Linked DNA regions of Homo sapiens: region 2 is linked to region 1. A link means that fine-mapping ties the variant in region 1 to the expression of a gene that starts in the linked region. Tissue or cell type: whole blood. Region 1 holds a variant in brackets; the other region holds the start of a gene. All regions are shown on one strand. Distances are from middle to middle.

Region 1 (8,102 bases):
AATCATAACCCTGATTTGGCAGATTCCCTCTTTCCCCTACTCTTTCTCCCCTCTCCCCTAACCTACGCCCTAGCCTGCCCTCAGTCCCTACTCAAGTCTAATACAACCCTGGATTTGGGGCCTCTTCGGTTCTAGACGCCTCCTGTTTAGGTGCTTCGAACACCGGTATTAGGAGGAAAGGAGTCATTTCTCAGTGTGTGCAGAATTTCAGAGTCTGGGGTTCCCCTCCCCTTTTCTCCAAGTGGAAGCTGAGAACAACATTTGGGTCCTTTCCCCAGCTTGGCCGTCTAGGGTTGTAGGAGCTGGGCCTGCTGGAGCCCATGGGATGGCCCTAAAACCCTCCCATTTCTCCCCCTGCCTCCCCCAAGTTCCCACCTGCACGCACACTCCATCAAGGGAAAATAAATGGAGCAAAAAAGAAGGCCGAGAGCGCAGACACCTTCTGCTGTATCACCAGGTCCCCTGGCTGCACCTCAGCTTCCTGCACTTGCCCCTTCTCCCCCACACAAATGTGCCCCCCAAAGTCGGAAGCGTCAAGGGCCAGGGCGGAAAGGCTTGCCGGGCCACCCACTCCCGTCTCCCCAGGACCCTGCCTGGAGGACGCGGGTCTCACGTGGGCGGGGCAGGGGCGGGGCGCGGACTCACCAGCAGGCGCGCGGGCCGGAAGGCAGCGGCCTCGGCCGAGCAGCAGCGCCCGCAAAGGCGCCTCGTCGTCCTTGGGCGGATGGCACTGCAGTCCTGGGGCGCAGTTAGGGGTGTAGACCCCGCACTCCTGCCCCTCCCTCCTGAGACAGCCCTCAGCTTCCGCGCAGCCCTCGGCTGGCGACCCCCCATCCTCCTCCTCCACGCAGCCCCCTGGACAACCCGCCTGCACCCCTTGCCCGCAGCCTGGGCACCGCGCCAAGGCGCCTCCTGGGCTGGCAGCGAGCAGCAGAGCTAGCAGCAGCAGCAGCGGTGGCAGCAGCCTGTGGGGGGTCATGGTCAGGGTTTGTGCCCCGTCCTCTCCTTCCAGAGCAGTCGCAGCGCAGCTGCTGCCCGCCGCCGCCCCTCTGTCTTAAGTAGCCGCCGGCCAGGGGCCGGGCCCTTTAAGAGCCAGGTGAAGGGGGGTGGGGGAGAGGGCAGGGGCATTCCCTAAACTGGGTGGGACTGGAGAGGGCCCCCCCAACCTGGGTCCTCCCCACTCTTCTTTCCCTCTCCCTTTCCAGTTTCTGTTTACTTCCCAAATTGCTCTGATTTTTCTTGCTTTGTTCCCGGGAATCTCGGCCCGGAATTTGGGAGCTGTACAGCTGGCTGGAGGGACTGGAGGGTGGGGAGGAGCGGAAGAAGGGGAGGACGGGAGTGCAATCCACTTAGTGTGTATGTGTAGGACGACGAGGGGCATGCAGGGACCCGGTGGGGAGTGAGAAGACGGGGGCTGAAAGGGAACTGAGAAGAGATGGTGTGTGTGGATCACAAGAGGAGTGGGCAAATGTGGAGGGACAGAGAAAAGATGGAGAGGGTGGATAACGGGGTCTTGGGAAATTCTACTGCTGATGGGAGAAGTAGAACAGGGCAGAGGAGAGGAAGGGCAAAATTGGGAAAGGAGTAAGAGAAAGCACCCTTGAGGTAAGACTATGGAGAAAAGGGGCCCGAGGGGAACCAGACTGGGGTAAGCCAATGGGGGAAGGGCCGGGAGGCAGGGAGGGATACAACTTGAATGAACCGTAGGAGACCCTAGCATTGTGGTGGGCGCATGCGGAGTCTGGAAGGATTGGAGAGGGCTGTGTGCAGGGTGAGAACTGGCTGGGAGGCAGGGAAAGGGGGAAATTGGCAGGTTGAAACTAGAGAGGGAGAGAATTAAAGGAACTCGTATTCGGGATGCTCTTGGGGACAGTGGCCAGAGAGCAGACCCCACCCCCCTCCCCATCCCCGTCCTTCAGGTAAGCTCGCTCCTCCATTCCTCTCCTCTCCCAGAATCCGTTTCCTTCCCTCCCAGTCATCCATGGGGTTTTCTAGATTCATCAGACTGTCTTGTGCCCAGGGGACTTTGGGGAGGGACTACTCAGCATCTTTGCCTACCTACTTGTCCGCCTTCGCTCCAAGGGTCGGGTTCCACCGCTCCCCACCCGCCTTCCCCAGGCAGTGTCCCGCCCATCCCAGGCACTCCTAGCCAGGCCTCACAAGAGAGAGGAAGAGGGATTGTTTCCTTCGGCAACCCACACCCACCCAACTCTGGGTTATGCAACAGGGACCATCTCATTCTTTCCTAAAACAAGGGCTCTGGGCAGTGACTAAGTTTAAATGCTGGGCCCCAAGCAACAATGTCAGCAAGGCCTTCTTGAACTTTTAGGTAAATAGAAATAATACGAACCTCATTGTCAGCACAGCCCGCTTCGCCATGCAACCCTGGGACCCTAGGACATGTGTTTGGAGAATGGTGTTTTCCTGTTTCCCTGAGATACTGATGCAGACTGGAGAGGCAGGGAGGAGAGGGTTGTGGGGCAGCTGATGGGAGAAGCTACTGCTGATGGGAGAAGTAGACCAGGGCAGAGGAGAGGAAGGGCAAAATTGGGAAAGGGGTGAGAGAAAGCACCCCTTCCACCAAGGCTCTTCAACCCCCTGCCACAAGCTCTGACCAAGCTCCCTGGAACCAAGGCTGTCAGAGATGGGTTCCAGAGTACTGGGGTCCTGCTGCACACCCTTTATCACTATTTATTTTGTCCTACACATGGTTCTGGCTAGGGTCTTAGGGTCTTTCTCCTGGACTTCGGGTTGGTGCTCCTGAATAAGATGGAAAGCCTGTGGGAAGTTGGGAAGGGGAAAGAGATGGCTGTGCTCTTGCAGGATCCCAGTGTGGCTCTTTTTTAAATTTAAATTTTATTTTATTTTATTTTAAGTTCTGGGATACATGTGCAGAATGTGCAGGTTTGTTACATAGGTAAACATGTGCCATGTGGTTTGCTGCCCGTCAACCCAACACCTAGGTATTAAGTCCCGCATACATTAGCTATTTGACCTGATGCTCTCCCTCCCCTAGCCCCTACCC[C/T]GCCACAGGCCCCAGTGTGTGTTGTTCCCCTCCCTGTGTCCATGTTTTCTCATTGTTTTCAGCCCCCACTTATAAGTGAGAACATGTAGTGTTTGGTTTTCTGTTCCTGTGTTAGTTTGCTGAGAATGATGGCTTCCAGCTTCATCCATGTCCCTGCAGAGGACATTATCACATTCCTTTTTATGGCTGCATAGTATTCCATGCATTTGGGTTGGTTCTATGTCTTTGCTATTGTGAATAGTGCTGCAATAAACATACATGTGCATGTATTTTTATAATAGAATGATTTATATTCCTTTGGGTATATACCCAGTAATGGGATCGTTGGGTCAAATGGTATTTCTGGTCTGGTTCTAGATTTTTTTTTTTTTTGAGGCAGGTTCTCATTTTATTTCCCAGGCTGGAGTGCAGTGACTCCATCACGGCTCACTGTAACCTTGACCTCCTGGGCTCAGAAGATCCTCCCACCTTAGCCTCCCAGGTAGCTGGGACTACAGGCACACACCACCACGCCTGGCTAATTGTATTTTTAGCAGAGAGGGGGTTTCGACATGTTGCCCAGGCTGGTCTGGAACTCCTGGGCTCAAGTGATCCTTCCGCCTTGGCCTCCCAGAGTTCTGGAATTATAGGTGTGAGCCACTGCACCCAGATTGATGTGGCTCTTTAAAGATGTTTGTCATAGTGATTCATGCCTGTAATCCCAGCACTCTGGGAGGCCAAGGTGGGAGGATCAATTGAGCCCAGGAGTTCCAGACCAGCCTGGGCAACATGACCAAGCCCCATCTCTACTAAAAATACAAAATATCAGCCAGATGTGGTGGTGCATGCCTTTAGTCCCAGCTACCTAGGAGGCTAAGGTGGAAGGGATGAGCCAAGATCACACCACTGCACTCCAGCCTGGAACAACCAGAGTGAGACCCTGTCTCAAAGAAAAAAAAAAAAAAAAAAAAAAAAAAAAAAAAAAGGCTGTGCTACTCCTTTGTAGGTTATCGTTCAGAAAAAGCCCAACACTTTGCCAGCTTCTAACATCCACCACTCCCTCCTCAACCCTCCTCAATTTCCAGCCCCCGCTTCCCACGCTGCTACCACTGCCTCAGATTCTCCCTGCCTGCCGCTCCCACCTGCCCAGCTGTTACTTTCTAGATTCTAAGCCCGATTGCACAGTCCAGTTCCACCCACCACCCCAGGATTACACTTCCCTGTTTCCCCCTCCCTCTAGCATGATCCCCAGTTGTATGGCCATCAGCACTGAGGGTCTAACCGGTCTCTTTGCAGACTGAGACGCTTGAACTCTGCCTTCCTGCCATTGGGATGCCCTCTGCCTTAGTACCCAGGGCAGAAATCTGAAGCACATGTTCAGCACTCAGACCAAGAGTGTGGGCCAAGGTACAAAACTGTCGGATTCTGTCTGGCCTTTGTGTGAGAAGGGTTTGCTGAGAAGTTTCTTCCAGGCTGAGGAAAGGCTAAATAGCTTGGGCTATCACTTAAGCTTTTCCATAAACAAACTCTACTGGAACTTCCTCCTCCGCATCTACATTATACCCTGGTTTTCTGATCCTTCATGCTGTGTCTCTCACACTCAACCCGTCCCTCTAAATTCATGGTGCCCCAAGTGCTGACTTCCTTTTGAGAACAAGGGATAAAGGAAGGGGCCTGCCTGGACCATATTCAGCTTTAAATTTGAGACGAGAAACAGTGGCACAGTCCACAGACAGAAAGTCCCAGAGAGGAAGTTCAATGACCACATCACATCATGACATGGCCTAAGGCTGACGTGGGCCTGATGGGAACTACTGTGTAAACCTCAGCTAACCTGCAGCCTCTGTTTTCTGCCATCTCTCCCACACATACCATCCAAACTGGTCCTGCTGAAATGTGCTCCTGATCCCATAATTCTCTTCTCCTCAAGGATTTCGGGGGCACTTTACTTTTTATTTCTTGGTTTTTAAATTTTACTTTAAGTTCTGGGATGTATGTGCAGAATGTGCAGGTTTGTTACATAGGTAAACATGTGCCACAGTGGTTTGCTGCACCTATCAATCCATCACTTATGTATTTATGTTTTTTGTTTTTCGTTTTTTTTGAGACGGAGTCTGGCTCTGTCGCCCAGGTTGGAGTGCAGTGACGCGAACTCGGCTCACTGCAACCTCTGCCTCCTGGGTTCAGGTGATTCTCCTGCCTCAGCCTCCTGAGTAGCTGGGATTACAGCCACGTGCCACCGTGCCCGGCTAATTTTTGTATTTTTAGTAGAGACGAGGTTTCACCATGTTGATCATGCTGGTCTCCAACTCCTGACCTCATGATCTGCCCGCCTCAGCCTCTCAAAATGCTGGGATTACAGGCATAAGCCACCATGCCCAGTCCATATATTTATGTATTAAACCCCACATGCCTTAGCTATTTGATCTGATGCTCTCCCTCCCCTTGCCCCCCGACCCCACAGGTCCCGGTGTGTGTTATTCCTCGATGTCCTCCCCTACCATAGAACCTGTGCTCCACCTGACATTCAGGGTCCCGTAGACAATGACCCTGAAACACACTCTGCTTCAGTTAGCTGGCTGAATCACCTTCCCCAGAACCCCCTGGTAGTTTCTCATCTTGGGGATTGAAATGGGATAAGGGGAAATGAGGATGAGGCATAATTGGTGCTCAGAGATCATTTCTTCCCCTGAACTCCAAGCTTTCAGCTTACAAGGACCCTCCCTTCACTCCCCTCATCACTAGCCACATTCTTTTTTTTTTGAAACAGGGTCTCACTCTGTCACCCAGGCTGGAGTGCAGTGGCTCAGTCACAGCTCACTGCAGCCTCAACCTCATGGGCTCAAGTAATCCTTCCATTTCAGCCTCCAGAGTAGTTGGGACCACAGCCACGCACCACCACATCTGGCTAATTTTTTAATTTTTTAGGCCAGGTGTGCTTACTCACGCCTGTAATCCCAGCACTTTGGGAGGCCGAGGTGGGCAGATCACCTGAGGTCAGGAATTCGAAACCAGCCTGGTGAAACCAACATGGTGAAACCTCGTCTCTACTAAAAATACAAAAAAATTAGCCTGGCATGATGGCGCATGCCTGTAATCCCAGCTACTTGGGAGGCTGAGGAAGGAGAATTGCTTAAACCCAGGAGGCGGAGGTTGCAGTGAGCTGAGATCACACCATTGTACTCCAGCCTGTGCAACGAGAGCGAAACCCCCCTCAAAAAAGAAAAAAAAGTATTTTATATAGACAGGATCTTATTATTATATTGTCCAGGCTGGACAATATAGGAGCTTGAGCTCCTAGACTCAAGTGATCCTCCCACCTCAGCCTCCCAAAGTACTGGGATTACAGGCATGAGACACCACACCTAGCCCATCATTAACCAAATTCTGGCACCTCTTCCTCACCTACTTGGCCAGTTGACACCCTGCCTTCCTTTTAATTCATCCACATTATTGTGTTGCTATTTTATATTTTTGCTCCTCTTTTCCTGCATCATTTTTCCAGTTAGATTGTGGGTGTTTTGAGAATAGGGCCCCCATTCCTTTTTTATCTCTGGGCCTCCAGCTTCCAGCCCATAGAAGGACTTTAGAATAGACACCAGGAAATATCGGTGTTTTTGGTGGGAGCAAAGGCAGTCCTGGGGGAGGGACAGAGAGGTGACGGAGATACTGCAACACTTCTGGAGGCTCCGCCATCCTCCTGGACCTAGGCGCTAGCCCAGCCTACTCCAGGAGCTCTCTTGGCCCTCCCACCCCTTCAGCGCTTCCTCTCTCTTTTCTTCATCTTCTCCCTGCTCTCAGGTAAAGGCCAATAGTCTGAGAGGCCCAGAGTGCTGTCAGGAGAGGGAAAACTGCCCCGAGGGTAAATCAAACAGGACTTCCCAGGGAACAGGGCTTTACAAGAGAGTTTGGGAGAAGAGATGGATAGGGATGAAGAGAGGGGATGGTGAAGGCATCCCAAGGAGGAAAGCACATCTTTGTGTAACAGTTGTAAAGGTAAAAGGGCAGGGAGAGCAAAACAGCATATGCGTGTTGATGTGTGTGTGTGCATGTGTGCTCCACCTGGGTCCCCAGTGTTTCGGTACATCAGAGGAAGGAGAGCTGGAAAGGGAACAAGACTTTTCTAGACTGGGCTGGAGCCAGCCAGATGATTGGGAGTTGGGAATCATTAGTGAACAAAAAGGAGCAACTAAGGACCTGCGTCTTGCTTTTTAAAATATTTAAATGAATAAAAGTATATTCAGTCATTCAATGGATTCATAGGGCACCTATTTATGTAGATGTAACTGGGAGATATGGACATAAGTAGGAATTGTGCTCCCAGAGAACTTAGTGCTAATATCTGTTTATCCAACATACGATAAACAACTGAGAAAATCAGCCAGGATGCCAGGGTATTCTGGGATAGAATGCAGACTGTGACAAATTAATCTAATTATATTACACATTTATGACACACACACTGAGGAGGGTGAGAAGAAAAGGAGCTGACCTAAGTAACTTTGGAAAACAGTGTTTTCACTGGAAACTCTCAAAGGCTAAAAACAAAAAGAAGAATGCACTTTACAGAAACACTGTACTGTAACTGGTACATCTGTTTCTCATTGGAGTATGGGTTAAAAATTTTGAAAGTGCTTTACATATATATTGGGGTTGAACAAATAAGTAATGAATGTTGGGAGCCAGGTTTCTCACTGTCAGAGGGAGAAGTCACAGATCCACAAGGCTATATAATGAACTCTGTGGTACTGGGTTAGAATGGGAGACAGCAGTGTGAACTTGTATTTAGCTTAATATATAGTCAGATGACTAGATACAGAAACGATTATAGATACCTATATGCACATGGTTAGTATACATACATGTGTTACCTAACTCTGTTGCCCCAGAGGGCCTAGAAGAAATGACACTACAATAACAGTAGCATATCTCACAGCTAGATCTTGGTTTCTAAATACCATTCTCCAAAAAAGGAAGAACGTTTCTCCATTTTTTGGAGAACTGGCTGATTCTGGGTTTGGGGCAGGGAAAATAGATGATCTAGAGCATCTTGTAGCACTAGAAAGTAAGAAAGTACCCACAAAACAAAAGGATGGGG
Region 2 (8,102 bases), 140 kb before region 1:
GGTGGGCTGGAGCACAGATGTAGTTTGGTCAAAGGCTGGCAGACAGGGAGATCTAACTGAAGCTGAATAGAACCCAGGCAGTTGGTGGGAGTTGGCAGGGGAAGCAGGATGCCTGGGTTCTGGGAGTTTCCATCCAGGGGAAGTCCCAGGTGTGGGTGTGGGGGTGCCAGGCTGGCCCCACCCAACACTCTGGCCCCAGGGGATGTGGGCACAGGGAGGAAAGTGGGTCACAGCAGGGCTGGGACTTAACCCCATTGGTTCCATGACCTCTTTGCTGGCTCTAGAGGAGGCACAGTCACAAAGAGGTCTGCTCCCTCTTTCAAGGGGCCCCCAATTCCTTTTCAAAAGGAAGAGACTTGGAACTTTTGTGTCTGGGTAGGAGGAATTGGAAGCTCTCCAGTGGACAGGGGAAAGAGAACCCCGTATCCCCTGGATGGAGATTCTGTGCAAAACAGACAGCTACATCCACCCACACACTGGCTGGCAGACACCTGTAGCACTCGCCTCACACACACTCCAGGCAACTGTGGAGGCAGACGTGCTAGCTCCAGGGAGTGGGACAGGTCAGGGCTGGATCGGGGGAGTGGGGGCATGGTAGAGCAGGCTCAGAGGAGAAGGCCTTCTGTCTGGTGAGGCTCCAGCTGGGCAAATGCAGGAATCCCTCACCCTGGAGGATTTGCCAGCATGGGGCCTTGTTTTCCATAGTATAATCTCAAGTCTCAGCCTGTGAGTCGTCTTCCCTCTCTGTCTCTGTTTCCCTTTCTGGAGGAAATGAATGCATTCAGGTATCTCAGCGTCCTGCTATGACCACAAGGAGGTACTTACCATCCCTCCCTTTTGGCATATTGAAATCCAAGCACGTCACAGGAATGGAAGGCCCCTCTTTTTTGGGGGCAGGGGGAGCAGACTGGCTGAGGGCCAGGACATCAATTCCAGGGCCTTTGCACATACTCTTGAGCAGCACATATATTTCACTGCCCTTCCTTCTCTCTAATCTCCCTCATTTTTTCTCCGAAGACTTTCCTGATCTCCTTGGCGGAGAATACTCCTCTGCTCCATTCTCATGGTCCCTCATGCCTCTCCACACTGATTATTCTAGTTGCAGTTTTGTGGATTATTTGGTTAACAACTGACTCCATCCGACTGTGAACTTGCCAGGGACCATACCTGGGTATTCCCAGAACCTAGCACAGTGCTTATCACATAGTGGATGCCTAATAAAGATTTGTTGAATTAATGCATGGTGCCTGTTCAGGGAAGAAATTCCCAGAGGTGTTTAGGCTAATCCTAAAATCCTGAGCTTCAAAATTAAGTCCTTATTCTATGTGGGGATCTGGGCAGCACTGGGGCTGGTAAGGACCTTCTACACACAAACTCCCTCACCAGGAGAGTCAACGAGCTGGCAAGCAGCAGAATAGGCCTAGTACAAGGGATGGAGTGGAGCAAGCACCAGAGGCAGGGCTGGCACCAGCACTGGCACAGAGCTTGCCTAGGGGGAGGAGGTGGGAGAGGAGAGGAGGAAGGGAAAAGAGAGGACACGTGTTGTACAAAACATGTTTTCATCACGCTCTCCCTGGGTGCCCTGGTCCCCAAGCCCTGACAGCACTTCCATGCCTTAATGATGTCTTTGGGGGCTGCAACACAGCTCCCCCACCACCCCCTATAGTCATCTGCCAGACACCTCTGAGCATGGCATAGGACATCCCCCACACCACCAGATTTGGGCATGGGGAAATGACCTATTCAGTGTCCTGATGCCGGAGGGTTGGGAGGGGGTGAGGGTGAAAATTAGGGTGGGGCAATTTTCATCCTCACCACTGTCCGCCCCCCCAGCATCAGGGCACTGAATAAGTCATTTCCCCATGACTTTCAGGACAGGTGGGACAGATATCTGCATCCTTTTCCTCTCCTCATAATCTCTCCTTTTGGTCTTTGCTCTGGGATGAGGGGAGCAAACAAAGCCTGGTACTAGGGCCCCCAAGATATCATTTCTCCAAGTTGCCAGGGTGACAAAGTAGAGCAGCCACAAACAGAGCAAAGCCTAGAAATAGGGATGACCCAAGGGAAAGAGGAATGAGGGGAGCCCCCTCCACCAGTTTCCAGAGTGGGAAGCCCTCTTCCCAAGCCTCCTCCTGGAATCTCTGGACAGAAAGCTGGCTCTGTTGCAAGCTGGGGAGTGGAGGGTGGGGAGAAGAATCTGAAGCCCTCACAATGCCCCTCTTCCCTGTCCCCCAATCTGCTGCTGCTGTTTGGTTTGACTTCCAAACTGCTGCAGTGAACAGACCCCAGTCACTGGGTCCTGGGGAGGGGCGGTAGAGGGGGCGGGGGTGGAAGCAGTGGCAATCCCAAGGGGAGGGGCCGGCATAGGGCGGGTCTTCCTGGGCATCGCTGCTTGGCTGCTGTCGTCGGCTGGGGACGAGGAGGCCGCCAGAAGGGAGGAGCTACAGTTACCAAGACGGATGGATAGACAAACGCCCACCAGAGACAAAGACCCGGGCAGACAGACAGACAAACCAAGACAAAGGGAGGGCAGAGACAGTTGGAATTCTGACTCCCTCTGTTTTCAGAGGCTACCCCAAGTGTTTTGTCCCCCGATTTAGGCTTCCCTGGCCCCATTTGCTACCTAGATGCACTGTCTCAGAGCTCCAGCTGTAGATCTTTGGGACCAACCCTAAGCCCCTCTACAGAAGGAGAAGGGAAGAGTTCAGAGAGATGATACTCAGCAGGGAGAGGAGAGTGTCACGGGTGGTGCCTGGTTCTGTGTCAGAATGCCTGGCCAAGGAGGGAGTGGTGCCCTTGCCTGGTTCATGAGGACAGGAGGCTCATTCACTGTAAACCAAGTACAGATGTGCTGGAAGGGGGAGGGGGAAATTAGGGCCACATTCCCAAACCACAACTGGGCCCGCCCTCCTCCCACCAGCCACCACTAGGGCAGGGCAGGAGGGGTTAACTTTGCAGCCTCTTGGCAGGAGCCCTGCCACACAGGCGGGGCGCCATCCCACCCCAGCCTGGACGCCTGGGTCCAACTCCCTGACACCCGCCCCTCCCACACTGCTGAGAGCTGCTCCCAGGGTAACCAAGCAAAGTCAACAGCAGCTAGGCCACCTGGGGACGGGACCCTGGAGTATCTATTCCTAGCTCTTCCTATCCCTGGAGTGAAAGAGAGGGCTTGTCTGCACCCCCATTGCCATCTCCCATTCCCTGAGGTAACCACAGCATGCCTCTTCTTTCCCCCATCTCCTTCACCTGACTTTGGCTACCAAAAGCAGCCTTTCCCAGGAGGGAGGACACCTGGCCCCCAGGGGGGAGCAAGGACAAAGCCAAGTAATTCCAGTATGGAAAATGTGACGTGACCCAGGAGTCTGTGTCCCAGGTCCTGGTCACCCTGCGAGCATTGCTGGGGAAGGTACTTTGGGTATGTCTGTCCAGCCTATCAGCCTAGCTCAGACTCTCCCCTTCTCCTCTTTCTCCCTCCCAACTCCAGTCCCCATGGGAGTGTTTGGGATCCGTGCACAGAGCTTGGACTGCAGACCCATTCTTTTCTCTCCCTCTGTCCTCAGTAGAATGCAGAGTGAAACCACTGGGTTCTCTCACTCTAGGGTTGAGAGTCTGTCTATGTTGAAGCAGATAATGCCCCCATCAGACACAGACACTCACTCTCGGCACTGGCATGCGCACGCGCTTGCACAGACACACACACACACACACGCACACACACACACACCCGGAGTCAACAGCATTCATGGCACATCTACCAGGCAGGCAGGCAGGCAGGCCGGTGCTGGCTAGGGCAGACACACACCCTCTGCCTGGGCTTTCTCTCTCACACCCAGCCCAAGGCTCCTCCCACTCCCAGCCACAGTTCCTCCTGCCCTCCTCTCCAGCCTCTCCCCTTCCAAATCCAGGCCTAAAGGTGGGGGACAACTGGCAGCCAGGGACCCAGGCGCCCTAACTCCTGGAGCTTACTCCAGGCAAGATGACAGGGAAGATGTCTGTGAGCCCTGGCCTCAGCACCCCCAGCAACAGCCACTAGTCAACCAGTTTGCTCCTGGGACCAAAGGACTGAGGTGGGCTAGGGGAAGGGAGAGGCTACTTGGATCTGCAGGTGAAGGCTGAGCAAAGAGTAAGGGCAGGAGCATCTATTCTAGATCTGGCATACTCCTGCCCGGCCAATCCAGCACTGGGAGGGAGTGGGTACCGCCCCATTGCCTACCCTGGGGAGGCGCCAGAGACTGGCCTCGCAAGAGTCACAGCCTGGCCACAGACAACTCAACTAGTCCCCCCAAAAGGCAGAAAGGAGAAAAGTGCCAGAGAGAAAAGGTTGGCATCACGGGGCCAGGACACTGACCTCCTCTGCCAGCCGTGCCCGGCCTCCCAGAGGATGGAGTCACGGAAGCCTAGCAAATGGGAAGGGCAGAGACCCAGGCGTCCCGGGCCGCCCCGCCCAGTCCCCCTCCCGCCCACCCATCCCTCCGCCCCCCAGCCCCAGGGCACAGAGGAGGGAGCCGGGCAGGGGCAGGCAGGGGAGGGAGGAGCGAGGGCGGGAGGGGGAGGAGGGAGTTGGGCAGGGAGGGAGGTTGGGGGGGGGGTGGGGAGGGAGAAAAAGAAAGAAAATATTTTCCGTGTCCCCGCCTGCAGAGTCAGTGTGCGGTTTGGGAGAAAATGTGTCGGATATTTTGGGGCGGTCACGTGGGCGGGCGGGCTCCGAGAGGCCCCGGGACAGTCCCAGCCTAGAGCCGTGCCCCCCCAGGAGCCCCCCAGTACGGCGAGCCCCGGACATTGCGACGCTCCATCCAAGAGACTGCCCGACGCCGGGACCTCGGGGCTCCGCCGCCTCCCTTCCCCCTCCCACTCCAGGTGAGTCAGGCGGGGAAGCAGGCTCGCCCGCCCCGTCGCCTGGGTCCTCCGGCGAGGCGGCTGGGGGAGGGGGCGCGGAGGAGCTGCACGGGCGAATGCCCTCCCGAGGCTGGCCAGGCTGGCCGCCGGGCTTGAGGGGGGCTTCTTGCCCCGACCCAGGCCAGTCCTGCTGTGGGAAGGGAATGGGGAAGATTTTAACAGGCTGAGGATGGGCTGGGTCATCTGCCCTTCATTTTGGTGCATAGCAGAGGACAGCATTTGGGGAAGTCTTCAGCCAGGGGGCATTCCTCCTTATATTTTTGTGCTGGGAATGTGAGAGAAGACAGGGTTTCCTCTCGCGGGGAAAGACTACCACCCCCTTACCCCCGGGCTCTGAGGGGTAGATTTGATGTTCCATGCTGGTCCAAGTTCCTCCCTCCCCAGTGGAATGGGACAGCTTGGACATCAGAAGGCAAGGAAAACGTCCAGAGGCAAGTGAGCCTGGCCCTCCGCGTCCAGGAGTTCCGAAGGACTGGTGCATAGGATAGGGATCTGTGAACTTTCCTTGAAGCGCTGGATTCCCTCCCACACGTTCCCAGCCCAGGTGCGAGCCTTGGCTCCCTCCAGCCAAGGTGGGGGGCACCTCTGGAGTATTCTTGAGGGAAGCCCAAATGGAACAAAGAAAGAGCAGGAAGACCGGGACAGGGACCCAGGAGTGCTGGTCCCAGAGTTCCACTGACGCTGCCTCTCTGTCTTTAGCAGCTACGGCCCAGTTCCCTCAACCTGACCCAGTATGTAGAAGCCAGTCTCTGCAGGCGGCCAGCGGGTAAGAAGATGCTTGGTTGTTAGTGGTGGTGGGGGCAGGGGAGCCTGAGTAGGAGGTCTTCAGGGCAAGAAACTGAGATGACTGTCCCGCTTTAGGGCTCTGGTCCTGGGCAGCTGGAATCCCAATCCTCAAGTCTGAGGCTTCTGCCCTTAGGGTCAGATGCTGAGTTGGGGTCAAGGACCATAGCCAGCATCTCATATCCTTGAGGCAAGTAGAGAGAAGACAGGGGAGTGGGGGTAGTGTGTGCAGGGAGCCTGGAGCTTGGGTATCCCATATAGACAGACATACACACACACACACACACACACACACACACACACACACACACACACGCACTGTGGCCTACAGCCTAGTAGGCAGCATGGGGCACGCCCCCCCACACCCCGGCACACCCCCACCCCTGGCTCAGAAAGCCACCTAACTGGCACCTCCAGTTCCCCCCTCTGCCCCACCCTGTCCATGCCCTCTGATGCCCACACACATTCCACTGGCATTGCCTGCCTGCCTCCTGGGCACTGCCCCTCCCTGGGGCTAGTAGGGTGGAGGGAGGGCACCTGGGGATGAGAGGTGGAGACTCAAGGGTCTGGACTCCCCCAGGGATGGCACAATGCCAAGGAAGCCTGGCCCACTGCTGCCTCCTGGGGAGCAGGCTGGGGGCCCAGGCTAGAGCAGAGGATGCCTGGGTTCTCTGCCCAGGCTGGAGATGGGGTCATGGAAAAAGGTGGTCGTGTTTATACAGAGGGGAGGGGGGCAGCGGGTGGAGAGTGGCCGACAAGAGCAGCTTTGTTCCAGGCTCTGGAGCGGGCAGGGCGACAGGGAAACACACCCCCCTCCATCCGGCAGCCCCCTTCATCCATGCCCTCCCCTCAACTCCACCTCAGCTCTAAGAGAAGCAGCTTTGTAAGAGCCCCTCTCCCCTAGTCTGTCATCCCCGCTGCCCCACCATTTGAGATGGCATCTTAGTAGAGGAAGAATGTTCTCTACTTTCCATGAGTCCCCCAAAGAACCAAGGCACCTGGGGCCTCAGTTTAGGACTTCCTTTTACTCTGCACTGCCTTCAATTCCTTAGTCCATTCTCCTACCCTGGGTTTAAGACCCTCCCCTTCTCTTCCCAGCCACGACAGAACCAAGGCTCAGAAATGGGAGGAATCTCTACCCCCTTCCTCTCTTCACTCAACTCCCAAGTCCCTTCTCTGAGGCAAAATAAGAGGAAGGCCAAGGACAACTCTCATTGGCTCACATGCAGCATCATTCCTTGGTGAGGATCAGGAGCTGAGCATCCCTCTGTGGGGACCCCCACTGCCCTACCTGCCTGTGTTTCCCATTGGTAGGTGAGAAGCAAAGACAAGGAGGGCTAAGGCAGAGAGCCCTGTTCCCAGTCTAAGCCAAGTCTGGGGAACATGGGGATGGGGGAGTCCTCTAGTAGCTTCTCACCCTTGTCATTGGAGGGGTTAATCCACCTGGAATGTGGCCTGGCCAGTTGAGCTGTGGCCCAGGGGCCTCAGGGGCCCCCAAACTCCTGGCTCCATCAGGGCTTAACTAGGGATGAGAACTTCGGAGGGGAATAGGAGAAGGAAAAGGAGAGGGACCCTGGAGGCTTGGAGCTCAGACTTTTAGGGCCTGCGAAGACACTGGGCTAAAGAGTTTGAGGGTGCTGGGTGTATGGGTGGTGCCATGGTGAGGGGCAGGGGATGCTTCATTCATAAGGGCTGAGTGAAATGTGATGGCGTTGGGGTCTGGGTTCTTGTAACCTCCATGACAGTTTACCCTCAAGGGCTTGAAGGCCAAGGTAGAGGAGAGAAAGAAAAACAAGCAAAAACAAAAATAAAAACCAGAGGTATAAAGACTGAGAGCTATACATCCTAGAAGCAAATACTGATGGAAAGAAAGGCAGATATACCCATCCCCTACCTCTGGGCCTGCCCACCCCATGGTCTCTCTGCATTTTAGTCTCTTGGCCCTTCTCTGCCCTTCATAGCAGTCTGTTATGGCTCTGACTGGTGGAGATACCCAGGCTGGGGTGACTTTTCCTCCCTAGCCCACTAACTGCCTAGAGAGGTGAGAAGTTCTGGGGCTCCTAGGAAAGCCAAACTTTTCCTTTGTCAGGGGATGAAGATAGGAACCACCTACTTAGCACTAGGATTCCCATCTCCTCTCTCTACCTCCTTCTCCTCCCCTTCCCCTGGGCTCAGGTTTAAACTCTTAGAGGGAAGCCTACTTTTGGGGGAGGAGAGGTTGCAGGGAGAACTTCCTAGAAACAGGGAGCCCAGGGATAAGAAAGAAAAGGAGGCAGAATGCCCGGGCGTGTCGCTCACGCCTGTAATCCCAGCACTTTGAGAGGCCAAGGTGGGCGGATCATCTGAGGTTGGGAGTTCGAGACCAGCCTGACCAACCTGGAGAAACCCCATCTCTACTAAAAATATAAACATTAGCTGTCTCA

What was found. PIP is the estimated chance that this variant, and not a neighbour inherited with it, causes the effect.
Region 2: it holds the start of RARG, and the variant in region 1 is fine-mapped to the expression of RARG in whole blood (INTERVAL, PIP above 0.99).

What each region holds. Positions count from the first base shown.
Region 1 is chr12:53,090,595-53,098,696 of GRCh38, reverse strand. It overlaps IGFBP6 (insulin like growth factor binding protein 6), which reads right to left and starts at 1,030. Exons shown (of 4, transcript NM_002178.3): 1 at 646-1,030. The coding sequence starts at 979. RefSeq lists silencers at 513-632, 643-722. The variant C/T (reference allele first, on the strand shown) is at 3,026.
Region 2 is chr12:53,228,729-53,236,830 of GRCh38, reverse strand. It overlaps RARG (retinoic acid receptor gamma), which reads left to right and starts at 4,622. Exons shown (of 10, transcript NM_000966.6): 1 at 4,622-4,857; 2 at 5,596-5,662. RefSeq lists silencers at 4,437-4,486, 4,807-4,936.